Linked DNA regions of Homo sapiens: all the other regions are linked to region 2. Evidence: fine-mapped expression QTL. A gene starts in region 2. Each other region holds a variant in brackets. All regions are shown on one strand. Distances are from middle to middle.

The links. PIP is the estimated chance that this variant, and not a neighbour inherited with it, causes the effect.
Region 1: its variant is the best candidate, but not a certain one, in a credible set for the expression of EFHC1 in sun-exposed skin (GTEx, PIP 0.88).
Region 3: its variant is the best candidate, but not a certain one, in a credible set for the expression of EFHC1 in whole blood (INTERVAL, PIP 0.69).

What each region holds. Positions count from the first base shown.
Region 1 is chr6:52,487,840-52,496,028 of GRCh38, forward strand. It overlaps EFHC1 (EF-hand domain containing 1), which reads left to right. Exons shown (of 11, transcript NM_018100.4): 10 at 2,301-2,511; 11 at 4,431-8,189. The coding sequence ends at 4,502. Among named protein-coding and RNA genes, the nearest start is that of EFHC1, 72 kb to the left of the region's middle. The variant A/C (reference allele first, on the strand shown) is at 4,434.
Region 2 is chr6:52,416,097-52,424,285 of GRCh38, forward strand. EFHC1 (EF-hand domain containing 1) reads left to right here and starts at 4,246. Exons shown (of 11, transcript NM_018100.4): 1 at 4,246-4,377; 2 at 7,850-8,071. The coding sequence starts at 4,315. It overlaps LOC124901331 (a long non-coding RNA gene), which reads right to left and starts at 4,885. Exons shown (of 2, transcript XR_007059611.1): 1 at 4,113-4,885; 2 at 1,804-2,352. RefSeq lists a silencer at 495-789 and an enhancer at 4,215-4,806.
Region 3 is chr6:52,450,981-52,459,141 of GRCh38, forward strand. EFHC1 (EF-hand domain containing 1) reads left to right here. Exons shown (of 11, transcript NM_018100.4): 4 at 1,708-1,857; 5 at 3,115-3,307. Among named protein-coding and RNA genes, the nearest start is that of EFHC1, 35 kb to the left of the region's middle. The variant G/A (reference allele first, on the strand shown) is at 4,921.

The DNA.
Region 1 (8,189 bases), 72 kb after region 2:
TAACCAGCTGGCCCCTCTGTTTTCTTGTTGAGCCATGTGAGCAAACCTTGCCCTGTAACTTGCAGCTCTTTTCCAGAGTGTGCCCTGACTTGGGCTTTGGCAATAAAGTAGGGGCTGTAACTTTAACTAGCTCTTCCTTAAACAGTACCACCTATTGCCATCTATCTGTGAATTTACTCCATCTTGCTCAAAGGCAGCAGATGCCATGGGTATTTTTCCTGCTGTATAAAGGGGAATGGGAATCTGGCTTCTTTGGGAAAGGGAGAGTTATTGTCTCTTTCCCCAAATGATTGGATGATCACATTTTAACTTTATATGTTTCATGGCTCTAGTTCTTGGAAACACATGCAAGATTGAGGTTTGACTGCTTTCTGCCACTAAAATAGCTCCCTGGTGGTCATTCATAATTTAGTATATATGATTTGAATTACATTCATCAGATAAACACATTCTGCTTCTATAATTAATAATGCCAGAGAGCATTTAGATATTGGGGATTATTACAACAATTTTTATTGTTCTTGGCTTACTACAAAAGTAACACATGACCAGAATTTGAAAATTTAGGGAATAAAAATCTAGGTAATAGAAATGGAAATAAACAAAAATTTTTGAAAATCTTATAACTCAGAGATAACTGCTTCTAATATTTTGTTTTTAAAGATGCATATAAAGTGGAAAATTCTGTAATACTATTTTGCTTTTTTCACTTGATAGTCTATCATGAACCCTTGTGAAATGAAATATTTGAAGACACAGATATGAAGGGACCAAGGAAAAGCTTTGTTCCTACCCCATCTTTCATGTACCCACTTCTTACCCTCCACTCCCCATAGGTAACTACCTCTTTCATTTATTTTTTTGAATATCTTTTCAGAGTTTCTTTAAATAATATAAGCAACTTTAAGTATATACTCTTATTCCCCCACAACTTTTATAACACAAGGTAACACTCTATACATACTTTTATGTCTTGAGTTTCTCACTAAAAATATCTTTATACTCTTTCTGCAGCATTGTCAATGGCTGCAGTATTATTCTGTTGCTTTATTGTAGTGTAAATTATTTAATTCCCTATTTTTGGACATTTAGACTATCTCAAAACAATCTTATAGATGTATCTTTGCATACAACCCATGATTATTTCCTTAGGATAAATTATTTGAGATTATTTGCTGGACTTTTGCTTCATGTTTCCAAATTTTTCCTGAAAGGTTATTCCACTTTATACCTTCCCCAGCAAGACTTGCCAGCAGGTAAAAGAGGGAAATAAGTTAAACAGAGGCTATTTGCAACAGTGAACTTTAAAAATATTATACGCAAGAAAAGTAAATACAGAAAAGCAATGGTAGATTGATAGTTTTCAAGTTACGGAAGGAGAGGAATTCAGTGAGAGGTGACTGGGCATAATTGAGAGAATATGTTGGAACTGGAGTGGGATGTGAGTGCTAGTTTTGCCGCTGACATGGGATCTGGGATCAGTCACTCGGGTCTTCAAATGTGTTTTCTCATCACTGAAAGAGGGAAGAATGCTTACTGACTTTATGTGGCCCATTTTGTTCTAAAAGGATTTATGAAGATGAAATATGAGGGAATCTTTCAGCTCTAAAATTTTTAATTTTATAACTGTACCTTCATGTTCAGAGGAAATAAAAATTGAGCCTCTACTTATTGTGGTTGTTTTTTGAAGGGTTAGACCTCTCTCTTCCCAACACCCTGTGTTACTATTCTCTCTTAATTTCAGTAAATGCTAAGCCCAAACTTCTCACTCTACCTCACAGAGCAATCTCTTAGCTTCCATAGATAACCTTTCACAAAATTCAGTGTGAATTGGAGAGGGAATAATATTAAAACTATAAAAGGTTGATTCTTGGCTACAGATCTATAGCTATATATTTATATCTATCATCTCTCTTTATATATATCACTCAGGCATTTAGTTGTAGATGAGGAAACATTAATCTGCAACAGTAGTAAGAGACAATGATGTGATTCTCACAGATACCAAATTTGGCATGGTGGTGGTATTAGATTTGCCTCCTTGTGATGCAGTGATTAACAGATGGCAGGAAAGGAGGCTGAGCAAGAAGGGAGGAAATTCAAAAACTGCCCCCAGTCGGGCCTTCCTGATGTGGAGGTCAGCTATCGGCCTGTGGGCAAGTGTTCAGTTATTGGTCAGCTCAGTCTCAAAGCTGTGATTAGAAGCTTCCCTGATTTCATCAAGTAAGAACTTTGGTCACCGAGATGAGACTGATCAAGAATAAATACCATGTGCAGTCATTTCCTTCCTTTCTCTACAGCAAGCAAACTGAAAAGGATCCAGGCGTGCAGGAATTGGAAGCATTAATAGACACAATTCAGAAGCAACTGAAAGATCACTCATGCAAAGACAACATTCGTGAGGCATTTCAAATTTATGACAAGGAAGCTTCAGGATATGTGGACAGAGACATGTTCTTTAAAATCTGTGAATCGCTTAACGTCCCAGTGGATGACTCCTTGGTTAAGGAGGTCAGTATGAATTACTCTTCTGAGTTCATTGCAGAGGCTAGGCACTGATCATTCTTTTCTAAAGGCAATTGTGTGTGTATTTCACTACAACTGGGCCAGATTTAGGATGTTCAGATCAGATCTACTATTCTGTCCTGATTAGGTATTGCCCGTTGATTCTAGCATTGGTATTCTTTTCTAATTGCTGTTGCAGGGCATCTCTTTAAGTGGGCCTGGGGCTGGACAACACAGAGTGGTTAGTAGACCAACATGTCAGGACTGAAGAAGGGCAACAGAGACGATCCAGGAGGGGTGGCTACCAAGGGGAGACTCAAAGATAAGTTGATAGAGCAGACTGGTTGGCAGCCTTTGATACCCTTCACAGCTGATACCTACACTGGCCCATCAGTAGGGTTAGCATGAAAGAAGGCATGACCACTGCAGGAGGGCTGTGGCATCTGTCAGTAGTGGTAGCATGGCCAGCAGCTGATGGAGGAAGGGCATGGAAGTTTTCTTCCTTGAATTTTCATAAGTGAGTTGAAGGGGGACTTTCATGCCTTTTCTTCATTATAAACCCTTTAGCCAGGGTTCCCTTGGAAGTCAGAACAAAGTCCCCCTGAGAAATGCCAAGGACTGTGGCTTATGATCATTGAGACATTCTTACTGATTAAAAATATTGAGATTCTGAGGCCTTTTTAAAGATCTTTTAGCCAAAACAGGTGTTCAGAATTTAAGAGTCATTTAGGAAAGGGTTTGGTTTAGGGCTAGTGACTAGGTTGGAGATGAGGATTTTTCATAGACAGAAACATTAGCAGGGAGTGAGTAGGAGGGCAGATAGAAGAGTATTTGTTCATGTGGACCAAACACACATTTAGCTCCCCAAATTTTAGGTTGACAGCATGCCCAACTTTTGATTTTCAAATTCTTCATACTGTCTGATGTGGGAACTGACATGGGAGAGAGGGATGGCAGTCATTGGCAAGTGGAGCAGGGAAGTGGGGGTGGGACAGATTTGCACATCTTATAAAAATAACCACAGAAAATCAGTCTGTTACCAGTCACAGTCGAGTTTTAAGGGACACAGGTTGAGCAGTGGCATAACCAGACCCTTCCGTTAGGCTGTGGTAGCAAGAGCCTGCTATTTAAAAAGTCTTACTCCTCATGAGCTGAGTGGACAGTCTTTTATTTGAATATAAAAACAACTAAAAGTGCTTTTATAAATATGGATGTTAGTTCTGAAATCTTGGGAAATGTGGCAGACTGCCACGGTTACTTGAGACATCTCTACGACAATTACTACTGTTACTACTTGAGACCGTCATTACGAGAGTTAACGAAGGAAGATGAAAGCAGAAATGAAAACTTAAAACAAAAGTAACTATTTTAAAGGAAGGGAAAGAAGAGAGCTCCCTGCTTCTAGTGAGCAAAGGCAACCGCCCGAGCTGCTACAGCCCTTCATATTTATTGGGTAGAAAGAGCAGGGATTAATTGATCACAGGTTCACATTATTGCTAACAGGCTTCAGATGTGTCTAATCACAAGAAACACTTGTGCCTGGGTCGTGACTGCCTTCAGCGTTCCTTCTGGGCAGCAGACGCAGTTTGTCAGTTTGCCAACATCCTGCTTTCATGAGAAACAGTTTACTGTTTACTCATAGAGCCTCCAGTGGTATACTGAGTTGATCATGACGCTCATTCTTTCGGCCTTCAACAGGGAAGGTCATTTACTCCATCCAGCTTTGGTTTCATTAAGTGTAAGATGGGGATAATGTCTGTCCTACCTGCCAGGTTCACAGGATCATTTCAGAATCAACTTGAGGATACAAAAATTCTGAACTGATTTACAAAGGCTCGGGATCATTATGCATAAGCGCACTCTGCAGTTGAGCTGACGGAAGCCCTGCAGATCTGTCTCACCTATTCTCTTTGCTCTCTCTGCAGTTA[A/C]TCAGGATGTGCTCTCATGGAGAAGGCAAAATTAACTACTATAACTTTGTTCGTGCTTTCTCAAACTGACCTGCTGATGAGAAAATGCAAGACAATTTTTGATACTGGAACTATGCTTTGAAATACACCTTACACTCTTCATAGAGGCATTTACAGGGTTCCTGAAGTTTTATTTCTGTTTTGGTTCTTCTTTCACTCCTACTGAAGTCGAAACTAAATTGGATCTAATAGGATCTAAGATTGGTGCCTTATTTAGGGTGATAGGGGTATAGCAATGTCTAATTTTGTGTGTCAAATTGACTTGGCCACAGGGGGCCCAAATATTTCCTTTCTTTCTTTTTAAAAAAATAAATTTTTTTAGAGATGGGATCTCACTCTGTCATACAGGCTGGAGTGTGGTGGCACTATCCTAGTTCTATGAAGCCTCAGACTCCTGGGCTCAAGTGATCCTCCCACTTCAACCTCCCCAGTAGCTGGGACAACAGGCTCAAGCCACCATGCCCAGCTAATTTTTAAAATTATTTTGTAGAGACAAGGTCTTGCTAGGTTGCCTGAACTTGTCTCAAACTCATGAGCTCCAGAAATTCTCCCACCTCAGCCTCCAAAAGTGCTGGGATTATAGGCATGAGCCACTGTGCCCAGCCTCAGATATTTCATTATTCTGGGGGTTTCTCTGAAGGTATTTTTCGATGAGATAAACATTTGAATCAGAAGACTAAGTAAAACAGATAGTCCTCCCTAATGTGGGTGGGCCTCCTCCAATCATTTGAAGACATGAGTAGAATAAAAAGGCTGACCTTTCCCCAGGTAAGAGAATTCCTCCTGCCTGACTGGCTTCAAATTGGAACATCAGCCTTTTCTTGCCTTCAGACACAAATGGAAACATCAGCTGTTGGTCTGGAGCCTGCTGACCTTCAGACTGGACCTAAACCATCAGCTCTCCTAAGTCATAGGCCTTTGGATTCAGACTGGAATTATACCTTTAGCTCTCCTGGGTCTCCAGCTTGCCAATTTACCCTGCAGATCTTGGGACTTGTAAGCCTTCATAATTGTGTGAGCAATTTCTTATAACTCTCTCTTTCTCTCTCTCTACATATATATATATATATATATTTTATATGTACACATTCATACACACACACGCTTATATGTATACATATAGTATGTATATGTGTATATATATTATGTATATACATATATGTGCACACATCTCTACTAAAAATAGAAAAATTAGCCAGGTGTGGTGGCGTGTGCCTGTAGTCCCAGCCACTCGGGAGGCTTAAATGGGAGAATCACTTGAACCCTGGAGGCAGAGGTTGCAGTGAGCCAAGACCACGCCACTGCACTCCATCCAGCCTGGGTGACAGAGCAAGACTCCATCTCAAAAAAAAAAAGGTTAGAAAAATGCTGCTTTTAGAGAGCCTGGCCTTGAGAGAGGAAGGAAAGACTAGTTGCAGTTACTATTCTCTGGTGAGCTCTGACTGGCTTTTTACAAACAGGGCTTCTCTTTGGTTGAAGTCAGCCACTAAGTTCATCTTTAAACATGCTATCTCAAATTCCCCGAAGCCACCCAAAATGTGGTATGAATGAGGATAGAGTTACACAGAATTCAGACTGCTTTGCCCTCTCAGAACTTCTAGGGAACTTCCCTTGGTGTTTCCTTCCCTAACGAGCTCAGCCACTTGTAACCAGCTTATTGAAAGGGCTGTGAATGTATTATGTTGATTCCTTTTCTGTTCCAGGTTATTATCTTGGGAATAACCCATGTTTTGTTTTGTTTTACCCTCAGTCGCTCATAACTATTTAAAACAGTATCTCTTTCAAGTACAGATGCTCCTCTACTTATGGGGCTATGTCTCAATAAACTCACGTAAGTAAAAAATATCACAAGTTGAAAACACATTTAATAACCCTGATAAGCCCATTGTAAAGTAGGCAAATAAGTTGGACCATTGAAAGTTGGGGACTATCTGTATTTTAGAAGTTTTTTCAGCTTAAAAATTACCAAGCTCTATCCTACTTGGCCCAGCTCAGTCCTTCCCCCAGGCTTAGAAGCCTGTGGTAAAGAGTGTGTGTATACTGGGGTGATGATAGTGGTTTCTTCTTACTCCCTTCTTTCTGTCTTCTGCTCCCTTTGTTCCTATTCAGCCATGCTGCTGTTTCTAGCCCATGTAGGCTCTGGGAAAGGTTAAGCGGGTAGAAACCAGAGAAAAAGGGCAAAGTCTTATTTCTGTGGCTAGTAATGTCGTAATGTGGGGCCAGGTCTGAGTGACATGTGCCGAAAGGCTGACTCTTTCTCCCAGAGCACCTTTTCTCTCTTTTTGGATTCAGGGGGTACATGTGCAGGTTTGTTACATGAGTATATTGCACCCAGGTAGTGAGCATAGTGCCCAGTAAGTAGTTTTTCCACACATACCCCCTCCTTCCCTTCCCACTCTGGTAGTCCCCAGTGTCTATTGTTCCCATCATTATGTCTATGTGTATTCAATGTTTAGCTCCCACTTAGAAGTAAGAACATGCAATATTTGGTTTCCTATTCCTGCATCAATTCACTTTAGGATAATGGCCTCCAGCTGCATCCATGTTGCTGCAGAATACATGATTTCATTTTTTATGGCTGCGTAGTATTCCATGGTGTAGATATACTTCATTTAAAAAATCTAATCCACCATTGATTGGCACCTAGGTTGATTCCATGTCCTTTGCTCAGAGCCCCGTTTTGGTGAGTTCTTAGAACTCTTTCCAACCGGAAACTGCCCAGTGCACCACTCTCAGATGGACGGGACCCAGTCTGTACCTGATCACCCCGGCTCTAATGGTATGGTCTCCAAGGCTCCTTCTGATCTTCCCAGGAGGCCCTTTCAGGCTGACACACCTTCCAGGGTGTGCACTCTCGCCATGTTCTCACCCAGATGGCTCTCTTGGCTGTGTAATTAGGCAGCTCAATCCCTTTCCTTTAGACTGTTTCAGGGGAGAACCAGGTACCCCAAATCTTATGCTCTCCAAACTCCAGGGGACAGACACATGTCAAACCCTGAGTCTTTTAAAGTATACCCTCACTTAGCTTGCAGACCCAAGGCACTCCAGCCCCTTTCAAGAAGCTTGCACTTTCTGATATTTTCTCCATCACTCTTGCCTCCTGTGGTAGAGGAGCTTTGGGCTACTCCTTAACAAATCATTCATGGATCGGCAGCAAATCTGCAACATATGGATATATTTGCCAATTTTTGTCCTCAGCTTTGGGTCTCAGCCAAAATGGAGATTTAGGAAAGTCTCATTTAGCATCCTCTAGCCTGCTTTTGGCTGTTTTGTTTTGTTTTTGTGTTTGTTTTTTAGAGACAGGGTCTTACTCTGTTGCCAGACTGGAATGCGGTGGTGTGACCATAGCTCACTGCAGCCTCAAACTCCTGGGCTCATGCAATCCTCCTGCCTCAGCCTTCTGAGTAGCTAGGCCTGTAGTCTCAGAGGGAACTGTCTTCAATAAAGTTGGCACTGTCCACATACACTCCTTAAGTTTGCTGTCCACTTCTTGCCTTGCATCTCCTTTTAAGTTTACTTAAGACTGAGAAGCTGAGATCTGACAGCACCAACACAAGGTATAAAAGAGATTTCATGAAAGACCAAAGCCAGCAGGCCATTTCTGTGGTGTCCAAACACTCGCTGCTCACCTGTTTATACAAAGCAGCAAGTATAGGAGCCACAAACGTCAGAGCAAATCACTTTTTCTACTAAAATCCTGAATGGCAGTGCAGCCAT
Region 2 (8,189 bases):
AAAAATACTTTCCCACGTGACCGCTGAGTCATTCATTCATTAACTGTAGTAGGTCAGTAATTTTCCAACTATTTAATGGACATCTATGTAGTGCTAGGCACTGTGATGAGAGTTAGGAAAATGGCAATGAAAAAATGAAGACCATCTTCTTATGACGCTTATATCCTGTGAAGTATGTTCCATCAGCTTTGACAAGGAAAGAGAATTCCAACGGAATCAGCTAAAGCTATTGAATAGGTTTGACTTAAGGGAGGAAAAAGCAGCAGAAATACAGGTTTTTCCAAACCCCAGGCAGGAGCCCACATCAAGACTAAAATAGTCTAGACCCAAATGATGTAATTTTTGTGTCAAATGAAGATCTCCTGTGGATCCTAAATCTAATCACTGGATGTTTCTCCTTTTCCCATACTTTGCAAAGATCGAAGTGGATGACTGGGCCCTCTTTTTAGATAAAATATTTCAGAGGCCATGGAGTGATGGAAAGGAATGCTAGAGAGCACTCTGACTGAGGGACACCCCCTGGCCATATTCACGTGCTCACCACACCCCCAAGTACCTGCAAAACCTGCAGGTATGTAATTGGTTGTTTTCTTTTCCAGAAATTTTGCTGTACCATTTTTACCCAGCAGAGGGAAGCAGAACACCAAATCACTGCAGAAGTAATCCAGGACACATGCACACACAGCCCTTTGGTATTTTTTGTCCTGTGAATTTAGGTATTATAGAATGAGAATGTCACAGTTTTGAAAACAAATTCTGGGTAAAGTCAGCTCTGGGCAAAATGCTGAAAGAGGAGAGGTTTATTTTAGCTGACTGCTTATGGCCTGTCCCATCAGGATTGCCTGGAAGACATTACCCAGCCCACAAGGCCCTCTTTCAGGCTTGGCTCCTGGCAGTCTGACCTTTCAATTTTTTTCCATTCCCCAAGTTTTGGAACACCTGCTAAAATCATGCAATATTTCTGTGGTCTTCTGAGTCAGGCTTTATGCAATGGCCTTTCAATCATGGCATTTCCTACTTTAGCTGCCAGGAATGGTCAGTTTCCTGCCCTCTTTTATATATTCCACTAAGTGGGAAATGGTGGGTACAAACTGAAGTGCAATGCATGCTAAGTGGTCATGTAGACTGGAGTGCAGTGGCATGATCTCTGTTCACTGCAACCTCTGCCTCCCCGGTTCAAGCGATTCTCCTGCCTCAGCCTCCTGAGTAGCTGGGACTACAGGCATGTGCCACCACGTCCAGCTAATTTTTGTATTTTTAGTAGAGATGGGGTTTCGCCAGGCTGGTCTCAAAATCTTGGCCTCAAGTGATTTGCCCACCTTGGCCTCCCAAAGTGCTGGGGTTACGGGCATGAGCCACTGCACCCGACTGGGATACAAACTCTTAATCACAGCAGACCTTCTGAGGATCCAGGTACCTTTCTGAAGCCCTGCCTTTCCTCCCGCCCCACTTCTTTACAGACTTGTCCCTGTGCCTTTTAACACTAATGCAGTACGTCTGACTTCCCCTCCTCAGAGATGATAGCATTTTTAGGAGGCCATAGACCAACAGAAGTTGTCTTCATGCATTTCTGGGGTCCGAAAGTAGTTAAAACACACCCCTTAGCCATTTAACTGGCGTGCTTTTCTGGAAAGAAAGGCATGAGCAGAGGGCACTCCTCAAATAGAAACAGATGCGATAATGGACAATAGGCTTAGGCATGACTCAGCCTTTCCAGCTCCACACGCTCCTTCCCTACCCAACCCAGGAATATAGATCCAAGTGCAACCATGCACTTAGTCAAGAAGAGCTCTTCAAAGTGTGTCCTAATGCCATGAAATTTACTTTTAATAAGAGAGTGGGTAGGGAGGGATCATGGAACTTCTAACAGTTTAAGGTTATCATGAAGAGTCAGCAAAAATTACAGTAACCAGTGATTCTGGGTAATCAGCGTCAATGAGGTGGAGAGAAGTGGGAGAGGTGCCTTATCTTTGAAAGGTTAAACTTGCCATCTTTTTTTTTTTTTTTCCTTTTTTTGAGACGGAGTTTTGCTCTTGTTGCCCAGGCTGGAGTGCAATGGCGCGATCTCGGCTCACTGCAACCTCTACCTCCCGGGTTCAAGCGATTCTCGTGCCTCAGCCTCCCAAGTAGCTGGGATTACAGGCATGCGCCCCCATGCCCAGCTAATTTTGTATTTTTAGTAGAGGTGGGGTTTCACTATGTTGTCCAGGCTGGTCTCAAACTCTGACCTCAGGCGATCCACCCGCCTCGGCCTCCCAAAGTGCTGGGATTACAGGCGTGAGCCACCGCACCCAGCAAACTTGCCATCTTGACATATTCCTCCAGTGACTGGCATCCATCCTCAGTTGGTGTCTAAGGTATAATACAACGGACAGGTACTTTAAAAGTTTTCAGTAACTTCCACAATGCTAACCAATGTTTGAGGAATATGATTACATTTATTTTTTTAAAAAATAAGCAAGTTTTGTAAAAAGCACCAAAGGCAAAAAAACTTCATTGAAGTTTTTAAAAAATGTATTAAACTGCTGCATTAAGGTAATGTACTTACAGAAAAAGAAAAAGAGGTTTAAAAAAGGACAAGAACAGGAAACAGATGTAGTAAGGGGAGAAGAGTTAGAAAGGAAACTCTCTGGGCAGGGTATGGTAAGCAGGCATCAATAACTGCCTCAGGTGCCACTTAATGCATTCATGTCCTGGGCCTCCTGAGCGTCACACAAATTAGTGAAACCCAACAGGGGGATTTGCTCTGACAAGCAGCAATAAAAGTAAAGCTGCTGTCTGTATTGGCAGTAAACTACCTGTGACACTGAGATATGCCTTCTGTGTCTGGCTTATTACTCTATCATGTTCCTAAACTGGCTTGTCACAAACGCCTGTTACAAAAATCAGATTCCTGGCCTCCATGTCAGACCTAATGAATCCAAATCTCTCGGCACGTGGGTTTTGATTACTTTTTATTTTTAAGCTCCTCAGCAATGATGGATAGCTTTCTCCCCCCCCCCCCAAAAAAAATGTTTCAGGAATAGGATTATGTTTCTTTTAAGAAAAAATAATTTAAGCAAGTTTTGTAAAAAGCATCAAAGGCTATACCTATGATGCTGACAATATTTCACCTCACTTATCTGCTTCTTTCCCAAGACTTAGTCTTTCTCTTTGAAGGAGCTGTGTTCCTCCTAGTGGTTCTGATCTTTTTCATTGCAGCTGCAGGTACAAACGAGGGATTGAGGTGACCACCCTTCAACCTGCAGCTCTTCAGTCAACAAAAATCAAGTACCTATCAGAGTGCACCCTGCCCTGCAGCACATATTCAAGGCTTTCCCTACAAAAACAAAGGTGTTTAACCGAAGGGATTGATGGTAGAATAAAGAGAGCTGGGCGCGGTGGCTCATGCCTGTAATCCCAGCACTTTGGGAGGCGAGGTGGGCGGATCGCTTGACCCCAGGAATTCGAGACCAGCTTGGGCAACATAGTGGGACACTATCTCTACGGAAGGAGGGAAGTAGGGAAGGAAGGAAGGAAGCAAGGAGGGAAGGAGGGACGGAGGGAAGGAGGGAAGGAAGGAAGGAAAAAGAAAAGAAAGGAAAGAAAGAAAGGAAAGAAAGAAAGAGAAAGATTGATTTTAAAAAAGAGTTAAAAGGGGAAAAATACAATGTGGCAGTGGGAGAATTAAGGATGAGATGATTGCATTAGTTCATTGACCATCCCTGAGCAACAGAAACACAATCATGGGTAATCCTCGGCCCCTGCCTACAAGAAGCATGGGTCTAGTTTAGTAGCACTGCCAACTGGACCGACCATTTACACTTCTGTGTGAAATGGGGCAGAGGGGGGAGAAAAGAGTGCCTGAGCTCACAGCGTTGGCGGGGCGCAGTGAGGTCCGCCAGGACTAGGTGGAAGGAGAGAAGGAACGTCCCTCTCTGCAACTCATCTAAGGGCCTGCTCGGACCCCGGATCTCACAGCGAGAACTACCGCCTCGCTACACCCGCCTTTCCCCGCGCCACCCAACAGCTCCCACGTCTCATCCTCCGGGAGCGGGGCGGGGCGAAGCGGAAGAGGAGGGGCCGACACAACCACGCCCACTAGCCGCGCTCCAAGGCCGCGGCCCACTTACCGCGAGAACGCGGAGTCCTGCGGATGGCGCACGCGCAAACCTCCTGTGATGCCTGCGCCTCCTGGCCCCGCCTTCCGCTCGTGGGAGTTCCGGATGTTTAGCGTTACCATGGATCCTGGAGGTGCCCGCGAACACTGCTTGTCGCCTGGGCAACCGGAGAGGACGAAGCAGGACCTAGGTGGCGGCGGTGGTACCGGCTGCAATGGTGTCCAATCCCGTGCATGGCTTGCCCTTTCTTCCGGGCACGTCCTTTAAGGACTCTACGGTGAGCAGTTATCTGCCAGACTCCCACCTGTCCCCACCTTCCAGCAGCCCAGGAGGTTTCCCCGCTCAGTGCACCTCCATTCCCCTCCACTCAAGTCTGTCTTCTCTCCAAACACGTCTTCTGTCCTGACCCTGTTCTTTATTCTGGGCCGAACTTCTGCCGTTCTTCCCTAGCCATCCTCATCCCCTCTCTCCGATCCTTTGCCCTCCGCCTCATCCCTCTCTAGTTTTTTCCCACTCCATCTTGGCAGTGTGTTGGCGCCTTCATTCTCATCCCGTTAGCCGCGTTCTTTCTTACGGCCCTGCTCCTCCAAGCCCCTGCCTCTTGTCCCTTTAGATCACTGTTTCCCCCACCCTACTCCCAACCTATCTCTGGGCCCTCTCCCTAGCTCGTTCTCTCACATCATAACCTGTCTCCGTCCATCGCCGCCCTTAAAACCCCCCGCCACTATGCACCTTCAACCTCATTCCCACAGGTCCGTCATTCCCGCCCCACCTCTTCCTCTTCTGAATCCTGTACCCGGTAGTATCTCCCACTCCCAGCTCCATTTCCTGTTTTGTATGTATATCGATTCCGCTCCTCTTCTTTCCGCCAGGTCTTTTTCCTTTCTTCTTTATGCTTGCATCCAACCCCATTCTTTTTTCTCCATCTTCTACATTTTCCACAATTTAGTCCCATCCTCTCCCCATTCCTTTCTTTCTCCGTTGCGGGTTTTCCCCAAAACTTGCTCACCTTCCTCCCAAAGCATCTTTCCCTGCTTTGTAAGAGATATTCCTTTCCAGTTCCCTCAAGAATTGATTAGTTGCTGTTTATTCTTCCCCGGCCCTGTTCTTTTTATTCTAACGTTTTTGTAAAAAGATTCCTGTTTAGATTTTGTTTTGCTCCTTCCCCAACCTTGTGTTTTTATTTGCATTTTCTAGACAAAATTTTTTAAAAAGTAGCAGCAGCTTGGATTCTTTTTTTTTTTTAAACTCTTGCCACAGTTTAGCTCTTAAAATTATTTGGTTTGTTTTAATTCTGACAGGGCTACTGAAATGTATGTGCTGAAAAATCAATAATGAGATTCAGTAGACTGATCATCATAGATGAGCTAACAGTAGTTTATGTTTATATAGTTTAATACTTTAAACTCTTGCCTTCCTCTCCAGCTTCACAAAGTTAAAATATTTTGTCAATTTATTTTCTTTGGAAGAATCAATTTAGAATGAAATCGAAAGTTTGGTGAGAGAATTTGTATTCTGAATCTCTGTAATTATCCCTGCATTAAGACACAACATCATAGATTTTTAGTTTCAGTGGACTTTTCAGTTTTATGTAATTTAGAAAATGTTGTAGGCACTTGCCTGCCCTATACAGGATGAGCTTAAGCTTTTGGTGTTGGTGAGTATAGACAGGGCTGAGTTGATACAGGGAATTACAGAGGTGTGGATGGAAGTGCAAAGCTCTAAAAACATATTGCTGTATTACAAGTAAGAAGAACTGTGCATTGGACATATTTCAGATTTTAAATACACTGGCCAAGTGTCAACCAATTTGCCCTATTTGAAATTTGAAAAGCATCGTCAGTATATCTTCAGCAGTGAAGGACTGAATATGTATTAATGTAATTCTAAAGACATGCAGATAAGAAGTTAAAAAATTTTTAAAGGGGAGTGGGAAAACGATTTTAAAAAAAGACACACAGAAGGTGAACCATAATGGACAAGAGGGGTGGAAAGGGCCGAGGTTGCCTTGCCTGGGGTGTCTGTGAGTTATGGCTGAATGATGGTAGAGACATTTGTCTAAAACAAAGAAATAAACTGAAGTCACTGATGTTGCTTCTGTCTTTGGTGGTGGAAGAAGAGCTTGAAGTTCCATAAATTACCCAATGAGGATGTCAACTCAGCGCATTTTGTTCTATGTCATGTTTACTATATACCTGGAGCAGTCCCTGTCAACTGACTTGTGACTCTGAATACATGACCTTTAAAAACAAATGTCATACATTTGTTTTTATGGGTTATATACAGTTTATAACCCTTTTAGCAAAAGAAGTTTATTCTGTTGTACCTTTCATGTTAGTACAGATCTTGAAAGATGGTAGGCTGGGCTCTAAAGCAATTAGGATGTAGAAAGTTTTTTTCATAAAAATATTTTTTATGATTAATCTTAAATTGTATCTATGTATATATTTGAATATTATAGATAAGTAATTGTGAAAGTATCCTCACAACAGAAAAAGGAAACCATTAACATAACCTCTAATTTGCCTTTCTACTCTTTTTTATTTAATCTTTTAAATAAAAATGTGTTCATTGTAAAAAATCAACATAATTTAGAAATGTATAATACAGAGGACCAAACCAGTCTCTTCATGCACATATTTCCATGCTTATAATTGCAGTACACATATAATTTTATATGTTGCTTTTTCAGGCTTATTAAATCATAAATATTTTCACCAGGTTGCCACGTGATCTCTAAAATCAATATTTTAATGACAGCACCATAATCCATTGAGTGAGTTTTCGATCATTTACTCATGTCTTCATATGACTGTCTTTTAGATTGTCTTCAACATTTACCATTGTAATGGGCAGCTTCAGGCATATAGTTCTTTCTCATAATTCTGAATCATATTCGTAAATAAATGGTCGGGGTAGAATTATTGAGTTCAAGACTTTAAATATATACCATCCAGTTGCTTTCCAAAGAGTTGTAAGAATGTATCACTGTCATTGTGACAAGAGGGACAGGTAAAAATAAATTCATTCCATGTAAAAATAAAATTCACAGAACCGTATCTTCTAGGTTCTACAGTTTTTACGGCCCCAGATATCAGATGAAAAACATGAGAAGACTAGTGAAAAACTTAAGAGTATAGATGAGATACTCTTTTAATCTCTCATGCAAGGTGAATTGGTAGTTAAATTGGGCATTACAGAGCACAGCTTTAAATTTTACTTTAAGCTTAGGTGGCTACTTCGCTCCTTGTTCTTGTTCAAGTGTTTTAACTTAAAATACAGAATCTTTTAATGTAGGTAAGCTTTTGTTTTGTTTTGTTTTTTTGAGACAGAGTCTCACTGTTGCCCAGGCTGGAGTGCAGTGGTTCAATCATAGCTTATTGCAGCTTGGACCTCCCAGGCTCAAGTGATCCTTCCACCTCAGCCGACTATAATAGGCACAAGCCACCACACCCAGCTAATTTTTTTTTTTTTTTTTTTTTTTTTTTAGTTTTTGTAGAGACAGCATCTTGTTGCCCAGGCTGGTCTCGAACTCTGGGGCTGAAGTGATTCTCCCTCTTCAGCCTCCCAGAGTTCTGGGATTATAGGCACGAGCCACCATGCCCAGCCTTAATGTTGGTAAGCTTCTTGATGTAAGTTTTGTGATGCTTATAAGCAAAGATTCAAGTTATATTTTTAAAAGTTAGTTTTTTTTTTACCTAACAAATATTTGTCTAATGTTATTAATGACACATTCTTTTCTTCTTCAGAAAACAGCCTTCCACAGAAGTCAGACGCTGAGCTACAGGAACGGCTATGCAATTGTTCGACGTCCAACAGTTGGGATAGGCGGAGACCGGCTCCAGTTCAACCAGCTGTCCCAGGCTGAGCTGGATGAGTTGGCCAGTAAGGCACCAGTCTTAACTTATGGCCAACCTAAACAAGCCCCACCTGCGGATTTTATTCCTGCGCATGTGGCCTTTGACAAAAAGGTATCATCTGGAATTTTAGGGTACCCCTTGAATTAGGGTCTGAGAGCCAACTGCTTGCAAAAAAGTTAAAACAGTAAACCACAGAATTTCCAAAGGGCTCTGAGGAGAAAATTGTTCA
Region 3 (8,161 bases), 35 kb after region 2:
GCAGAGACTGGGTTTCACCATGTTGGCCAGGCTGGTCCTAAACTCCTGACCTCAAGTGATCCACCCACCTCTGCCTCCCAAAGTACTGGGATTACAGGCATGAGCCACCATGCCTGGCCTCTGTGCCTTTTAAATGGGGCCTTTAGCCCATTTATAATTAAGATTAGTGTTGATATGTGTAGATTTGATCCTGTCATTGTGTTGTTAGCTGGTTATTATGCTGGTTTGTTTGTGTGGTTGCTTTATAGTGTCACTGGTCTGTGTACTTGTGTGTTTTGTATTGGCTGGTAATGGCCTTTTCTTTCCATATTTAGTGCTCCTTTTAAGATCTCTTGTAAGGCAGGTCTGGTGGTAATGAACTCTGTCAGCATTTGCTTATCAGAAAAGGATCTTATTTCTCCTTTGCTAAGAAGCTTAGTTTGGCTAGATATGAAATTCTTGGTTGAAGATTTTTCTTCTTTAAGAATGTTGAATATAGGCCCCCAATCTCTTCTGGCTTATAGGGTTTCAGCTGAGAAGTCCAGTGTTAGCCTGATGGGGTTCCCTTTGTACGTGACCTGCCCTTTCTCTGTAGCTGCTTTTAACATTCTTTCTTTCATTTTGACCTTGGAAAATCTGATGATTATGTGGCTTGGGGATGATCTCCTTGCATAGAATCTTGCAGGGATTCTTTGTATTTCCTTAATTTGATTGTTGGCCTCTCTAGCGAGGTTGAGGAGGTTTTTGTGGACAATATCCTGAAATATGTTTTCCAAGTTGTTTGCTTTCTCACTGTCCCTTTCAGGAATGTCTGGTGAAATTTGAGCACTTGGTTTGTCTTTCCTATTTTGCTAACACGTTTTCTGGTCTAATATAACCAGTGGGTATGCTTTCTTTTTTTTCTTTTTTGGTGAGGGGAAGGGACTTAATCATATACAGTATTTGTTTTAAGTGAATTAGAAAATTGGGAATATGATTTCAGCCTAACTTGGCCATTGTGCATCTTGCCTCCAGACCTAATAGGAATTACATATTGTTTGAAACCATGGTTAGGTTCCAGATATATGAAAGTAAGCAATCCTAAGACTTACTCTGTTACAGGCACCTAACTAAATTTGATTGATTTAAATTATTTGAAAACAGTTATTTTGCCATTGTGCCTCCCAACTAGCTTAGCAAATACCTAGCAATATAACAATATAAAATACTTCAGGTAACTCTCAATTATTACCTGCATTATGGAGTTGGCTCAGTTGGAGACTTAATACAGCTTACATGCGCTCAAGCAGCAAACTAATGTTTAACTTAAGCAATGGCATAGAAATCATTATTACACTTTTTCTTTCTTTTTTTCTTTATTTGAGGCGGGGTCTTGCTGTGACGCAGGCTGGAGTGCAGTGTCATGATCATGGCTCACTGCAGCCTTGACCTCCTGAGCTCAAGCAGTCTACTCACTTCAGCCTCCTGAGTAGCCTGGACTGCAGGCAAATGCCATCAAACCAGTCTAACTTTTAAATGTTTTTGTAGAAACAGGGTCTCACTATGTTGCTCAGGCTGATTGTGAACTCCTGCGTTTCAGGAGTCCTCCTACCTCAGCCTCCCAAAGTGCTGAGATTGTAGGCCTGAGCCACAGTGCCTGGCCCATACACTTATTTTTATATAATCAGTTTATAACTTACTCTGAAAAGCTCCAAGAAAGATGATCATTGTTAACTTTCAATTATTTAGGTATTTTTAGAAAGCCAAGGAATTGAGTTAAATCCACCAGAGAAGATGGCTCTTGATCCTTACACTGAACTCCGAAAACAGCCTCTTCGTAAGTATGTCACCCCATCAGACTTTGATCAACTCAAGCAATTTCTCACCTTTGACAAACAGGTAAGTGACATAGGAACCACAATAGGCTTACTTATTTCCAAATGTGACCTACATTTATTGGCAAAAGGTTTGGGTAGCTGTATTGGTAACTATTTTGAAACATTACAGCTATAATTGAACTGTTTGGACACAGTACTGTCTTTCTGCTTTCATCAAGGGTTACAGGTACAGGAATGCCTACATTTCATATGGAGATCCAAAGAAGATCGTGGAGTTGCGGAGTTGTTTTGTGAACCTCACCAAACATTTAAATCTCAAAGCAATTCCTGAGCTACATCTGCTTCCCACCTTACGTTTCCAATTGACAATTTCTTTCCCTTAAAATGAGCTAATTTCATAGACTCCTTTGTGAAACCATAAATCGATTATTAGGAAATTTCACAAATATGCATACATGTAGGTTGTAATGTTAAAATGTTTAATTTCACAGAAGCCCCACTACAGATGCTTCCTTGTTAAATGTTATATTAATATTGGAGTCCAGAATGTTCTGAGCATTTTCCAACTCTGTTCCAACCTTCCTAATCCTCTCCCTTGTGAGCTGATGTGTATAAGCAGATTTAAATCCTTCCCTTTCTGTACTAAAGGGAGAAAGAAAAGGAAGAGATCACCCTCAGTGCTTCTTTGCTGCTCCTTTTCTTTAGACATTTAACCCCTTTTAGTTCAGAAAATGTAAACTAGCACTAGCATGGTCTTTTAAGGATTTTGTTCATATCAGTCATATATCTGTTATTATTTTGTATTTAAAGATTGTGTTTATTCCCACGATTTGAAGAAGCCTAGCCAAAAAAAAAAAAAAAAAGATTGTGTTTATATTATTGCTAGAAGATATGTGTTGATGGGACCAAAAAAAGACTGGTTAATAAATAAAAATTTTTTCTACACTAATTATATATAAACCATATTCACATGTACCTTTATTAATATATATATACCACTATGTAAAGAACTTCATTGCTCTTTTAATTTAGCTTCTCTTTCACTGACTAATATTTTGGATCAAAGTGAGCTCTTCTTTTTTGGCACAAACTTATAATCCTATTATTTAATTCTTTCCAGCTGCTGACATATAGTACATAATTTCAGATGTTTTAGTATGTTTGATGAATATTTCTTTTTTTTTCAATTTACCCCATCTGAAATTACTTCATAGTCTTTCCAGCTAGTCTTTCCATCGTTGATACATAATTGCCAAAGTAGCCAAGTTGAACTCCCTACTTTTAGGATTCTTGAGTCACTACTTTGGATTCTTCAAAGGTCCTTCGATTCTATGCAATCTGGGATGATACAGACAGCATGTATGGTGAATGTCGGACCTACATCATTCATTACTATCTTATGGATGATACGGTGGAAATTCGAGAGGTCCACGAACGGAATGATGGGAGAGATCCTTTCCCACTCCTAATGAACCGCCAGCGTGTGCCCAAAGTTTTGGTGGAAAATGCAAGTATGTTTGATTCAGTTTATTCTCTGTTACTTGGGATGTTTTTAGGTTCTTAAAGGAGTTACTTAATCAGTATGCAAAATTCGTTTATACTTGGAAGCCTCTAGCTATTTTTGCTTAGATGCTCAGAAAATGGCTTCCCACAGCTTTCCTCCTTTACTTGCCCCTCGGTCCAGGCGTGCCCCCAAGACAGTCTGGTACCCAGGTCAAGGAAACAAAACCAAAACAACAGTGGGAGATTTATTTAAAGTGCAGCAGAGCAAGGTTTCTGAACTGAAACAATTTAATATTAGATTTTTAATGCATTTTTCAAACAGGCTTGTTTTCATTCAAGGATATGAATGAAAGCTTAGCTTTTCTTTATATGCTTTCCTGACTTTGCTTCTCACTTCAACTACTTCCTAAACAGGAAGTTTCTATGTGGTTTAACTTGAGATTGGAAAAGGCATGTCTGTGACTCATAGAGGTGAGGTCCATTGTGTCAAACCCAGCTCATTCTTTACTGGTTTAAAATTACCTAGCATGGGCTGGGCATGATGGCTCACTCCTGTAATCCCAGCACTTTGGGAGACTGAGGCGGGTGGATTGCTTGAGCCCAAGAGTTTGAGACCAGCCTGGGCAACGTGATGAAACCTCCTCTCTACAAAAAATACAAAAATTAGCCATGCTTGGTGCCGCACACCTGTATTCCCAGCTACTTGGGAGGCTGAGGTGGGAGGATCATCTGAGCCTGGGAGGTCGAGGCTGCGGTGAGCTGTGATTGTGGTGCTGCACTCCAGCCTGGGCAACAGTGAGATCCTATCTCCAGAAAAAGAAAAAAAGTTACCTACCATATTTGAGAGTGGCAGTGCAACAAAATGGCAGCAAATACCTGCTGTTCACTGTTTCCTGGGATGAGTAGGCTTGCTTTAGTTATTGTCTTAGTAGTTTTTACATTTCTCTTAGAATAATGTCATCTTGGTCACATGTAATGACTGATAGCTCTTATGTTTGGGTGGCTGACAGGATTCTGTAAATGTGTTCACTGATTTTTTTTTCTTTTTACTATATTTTTTGGGAATTAGGATATAAGAAATTTCAGGTATTGGGGCTGGGCACGGTGGCTCACACCTGTAATCCCAGCACTTTGGGAGGCCAAGGCAGGTGGATCATGAAGTCAGGAGATCGAGACCATTCTAGCTAACATGGTGAAACCCCATCTCTACTAAAAATACAAAAAATTAGCTGGGCGTGGTGGCGTGCACCTGTAGTCCCAGCTACTCAGGAGGCTGAGGCAGGAGAATTGTTTGAACCCGGGAGGTGGAGGTTGTGGCGAGCCAAGATCGTGCCACTGCACTCCAGCCTGGGTGACAGAGTGAGACTCCATCTCAAAAAAAAAAAGAAAAAGAAATTTCAGGTATTGAGCAAGAAGTTTGTCTACATTAGAGGTTATAAATAAATGTGTAGTCTGAGGCTAAATTCAACGTGTCTGTACATATTGCTTCACTTGCACAGTGCTTTTTTATGAAAAATGCAGTATTATTTGTGGGCAAGGAGTTGGAGGTTTCCATCATTGAGAGAATGGATAAGCAAAAATGTAGTGAAGGTACATTTTGATTAATATACAGTAGTTAGAA[G/A]CAGTAAACAAGATGTACACAGAAAGCAAGTGGATGGATCTTAAAAACATAGTGCTGTGTAGGAAAAAATACATGAAATTAGATATATAATGCTATAACACATGCAAAACATAGTACACGTAGGACACATTCAGTCACATAGCTGCATTAGAATGATTGCATGTGAGGAGAGGAGAATGAGATTGGGGAAAAGGATAAAAGGGAGTGAAAATTGTCATCATTTTAGAATTAGGAAAGTTTATGTTATATATTTTTTTAAAAAAATGAAAATACTGCTAATTCAGCTTGTATTCTCAAATAGAAACAACTGGATCTGTGCCCTAGTTCAACATAGTTTGGCTTCTACCTACTATACATATTCTTATAATCAGTTCTCTACAGAACCGTCTTAGAGTTCAATGACAATGGGACTAATATAGTAATTTTGGCCTTTCAGAATGCTTAAACAAGCCTGAAATCCATGCAGTTCGGAGCTAACAAACATTAGATTTACAATAGATAAAGAAAATGGATAGGAATATATTCAGGGTGGCATGAAAAGTCTCACTGAAACTAAATCCCTTTAAATGACAGATTCCAGGTTTGTCTCTGCTTTATCAATGTGACCTATATTGAAAACTTAATATATAATTATCCTCTTCTATAATTTCCCAATTAAAAATTTTTTATCAAAGTTGCATGGAGAGGCAGCCTGGTGGCATATATAGGGTTCTTTTAAAAAGTAGGAAACAGGCTGGTCGCTGTGGCCGAAGCCTATAATCCCGTCACTTTGGGAGGCCAAGGTGGGAGGATCACCTGAAGTCAGGAGTTCGAGACCAGTCTGGCCAACATGGTGAAACCCCCTCTCTACTAAAAAATACAAAAATTACCTGGGCATGGTGGCAGGTGCCTGTAGTCCCAGCTACTTAGGAGGCTGAGGCAGGAGAATTGCTTGAAGCCAGGAGACAGAGGCTGCAGTGAGCGGAGATTGCGCCACTTCACTCCAGCCTGGGCAACAGAGCAAGACTCCATCTCAAAAAAAGAAAAAAGGTATCAGTCATGAGGTACAGAAAAGGCTATGTTCCCATCAGCTACATAATTCCTTTAACTAGAAGGGTAGTGTTAAAAGAATGATGTCTAATTGACTCTCAAAGGCATTTATCCAATGGGTGATTTTTATTAAATTCAATTAAACAAGAGGTAAATAATCTGCTATGGGAACCATTTCACATGCTAAATGCTATGGAGGACAAAATGTAACTCCCATTCCTAGAATCCTATCTTTCAGTCATTTCTAGTGTCATTAAGAAGACAAGGCATATAAAATACACAAAGCTGTTAAGTAATAACATGAGTATACCAGATTATCTGATTATGTAATTAGTTAAGTCATGCAGACCGAGGTCAGAAGGACAAAGGTGTGGGCCTGAAAAACTAAAGAAGTCTTTGTGGAAGAGCTGGGATTAGACTCAGATTTAGAATGGCAGAGAACAAAGAGCTCACTAGAAAGAAGAACAAGAGCAAAAGTTGGGAATTAGGAACAAGTATGGCATGTTTGGGGGCGCCCAAGAGATGGTGGCTAGGCAGAGAGTTTGTATTAGACAGTAATAGGAAATTATGGGAGTAACTTTCAGAAGTCCTCTCAACCAGGGCCTCCTTTTAAGTAGCTAAGATAAATCAAAATTATATATTTATAATGGATGGAGTTAAAATATCAGAAATTCAGAAAGTTATTTCTTCGTCAAGGGCAATTGCATATTACCAATAGGTGGCAGGTAATATCAAAACAGGACATCTTTTGACTTAACAAAAGCTTTCTACTCAGCTCTTGAACCCAAGGAACCAGGTTCTGAAAGTCTAAATATGTTAGTTATCCTTCAGACTGGCTTTCATAGTTTGATCTTGCCCTTGCCTGTTAGATGAATCTTGAACACCCCTTAGACCTTTAGTGTTCCAGAAAGTTGAATGTATTTCCTCACTTTCTGTGCATCTTTGTTGGCTCACTCAGTCATTCGAATAATATTAATCGAACATCCATATAGATGAAGGAAACACCATGCTAGGCAATGGAGATCTGAAACTACTATAAGCCCCATATCTCAAAGACTTTACAATCTGATGAGATCAACATACAGATCAATGAAATAGAACAAATTGTCCAGAAATAGATGCACACATATGAGGTCATTTGATTTTTGACAAAGGTAAAAAAGCAATTTGGTGGAGAAATGATTGTCTTTTTAACAAAAGGTGCTGGAACAATTCAATAGCCTATGCAAAAGTAAATAAATAAATAAACTTCAACCCTTACCTCACCATACATAAAAGTTAACCCCAAATGGATCATAGACCTGGGCGACAGAGTGAGACCCTGTCTCAGAGCAGGGGGAAAAAAAAAGCAAATGTAATGAAAACAAAAATTGACAATTGGGACCTAATTAAACTAAAGAGCTTGTGCATTGCAAAAGAAGCTATCAACAGAGGAAACAGCCTACAGAATGGGAGAAAATATTTGAAACAATGCATTTGACAAATGTCTAATATCCAGAATCTATAAGGAACTTAAATCAACAAGAAAAATAACAAATAACCCCATTGAAAAGTAGGCAAAGGACATGAACAGACACTTCTCAAAAGAAAACATACAAATGGACAACAAACATTTTAAAAATGCCCAACATCACTAATCATCAGAGGGATGCAATCATACCAGTCAGAATGGCTATTATTAAGTCAAAAAATAACAGATGTTGGCAAGCTTGCAGAGAAAAGGGAATGCTTATCACTGTTGGTGGGAATGTGAACTAGTTCAGCCCCTGAGGAAAACAGTTTGGAGATTTCTCCAAAAGTAGAACTACACCAATCCCATTATTGGGTATATACCCAAAAGAAAATAAATTGTTGTATCCAAAAGATACTTGTATTCATGTTTATTGCAGCACTGTTCACAATAGCAAAGACATGGAATCAACCCAGGTGCCCATCACTGGTGGATTGGATAAAGAAAATGTGTTAATGGTACATATACACCATGGAATACTATATGGCCATAAAAAATAAAATCATATTCTTTGCAGCAACGTGGATGCAGGTAGAGGCCATTATACTAAGTGAATTAACACAGAAACAGAGCATTGGGTATACACATGGACACAAAGACAGGAACAATAGACACTGGGGACTCCAAAAGGAAGAAGTAAGGGAGAGGGACAAGGGTTGAAGAACTACCTATCAGGTACTGTGTTCACTATTTGGGTGACAG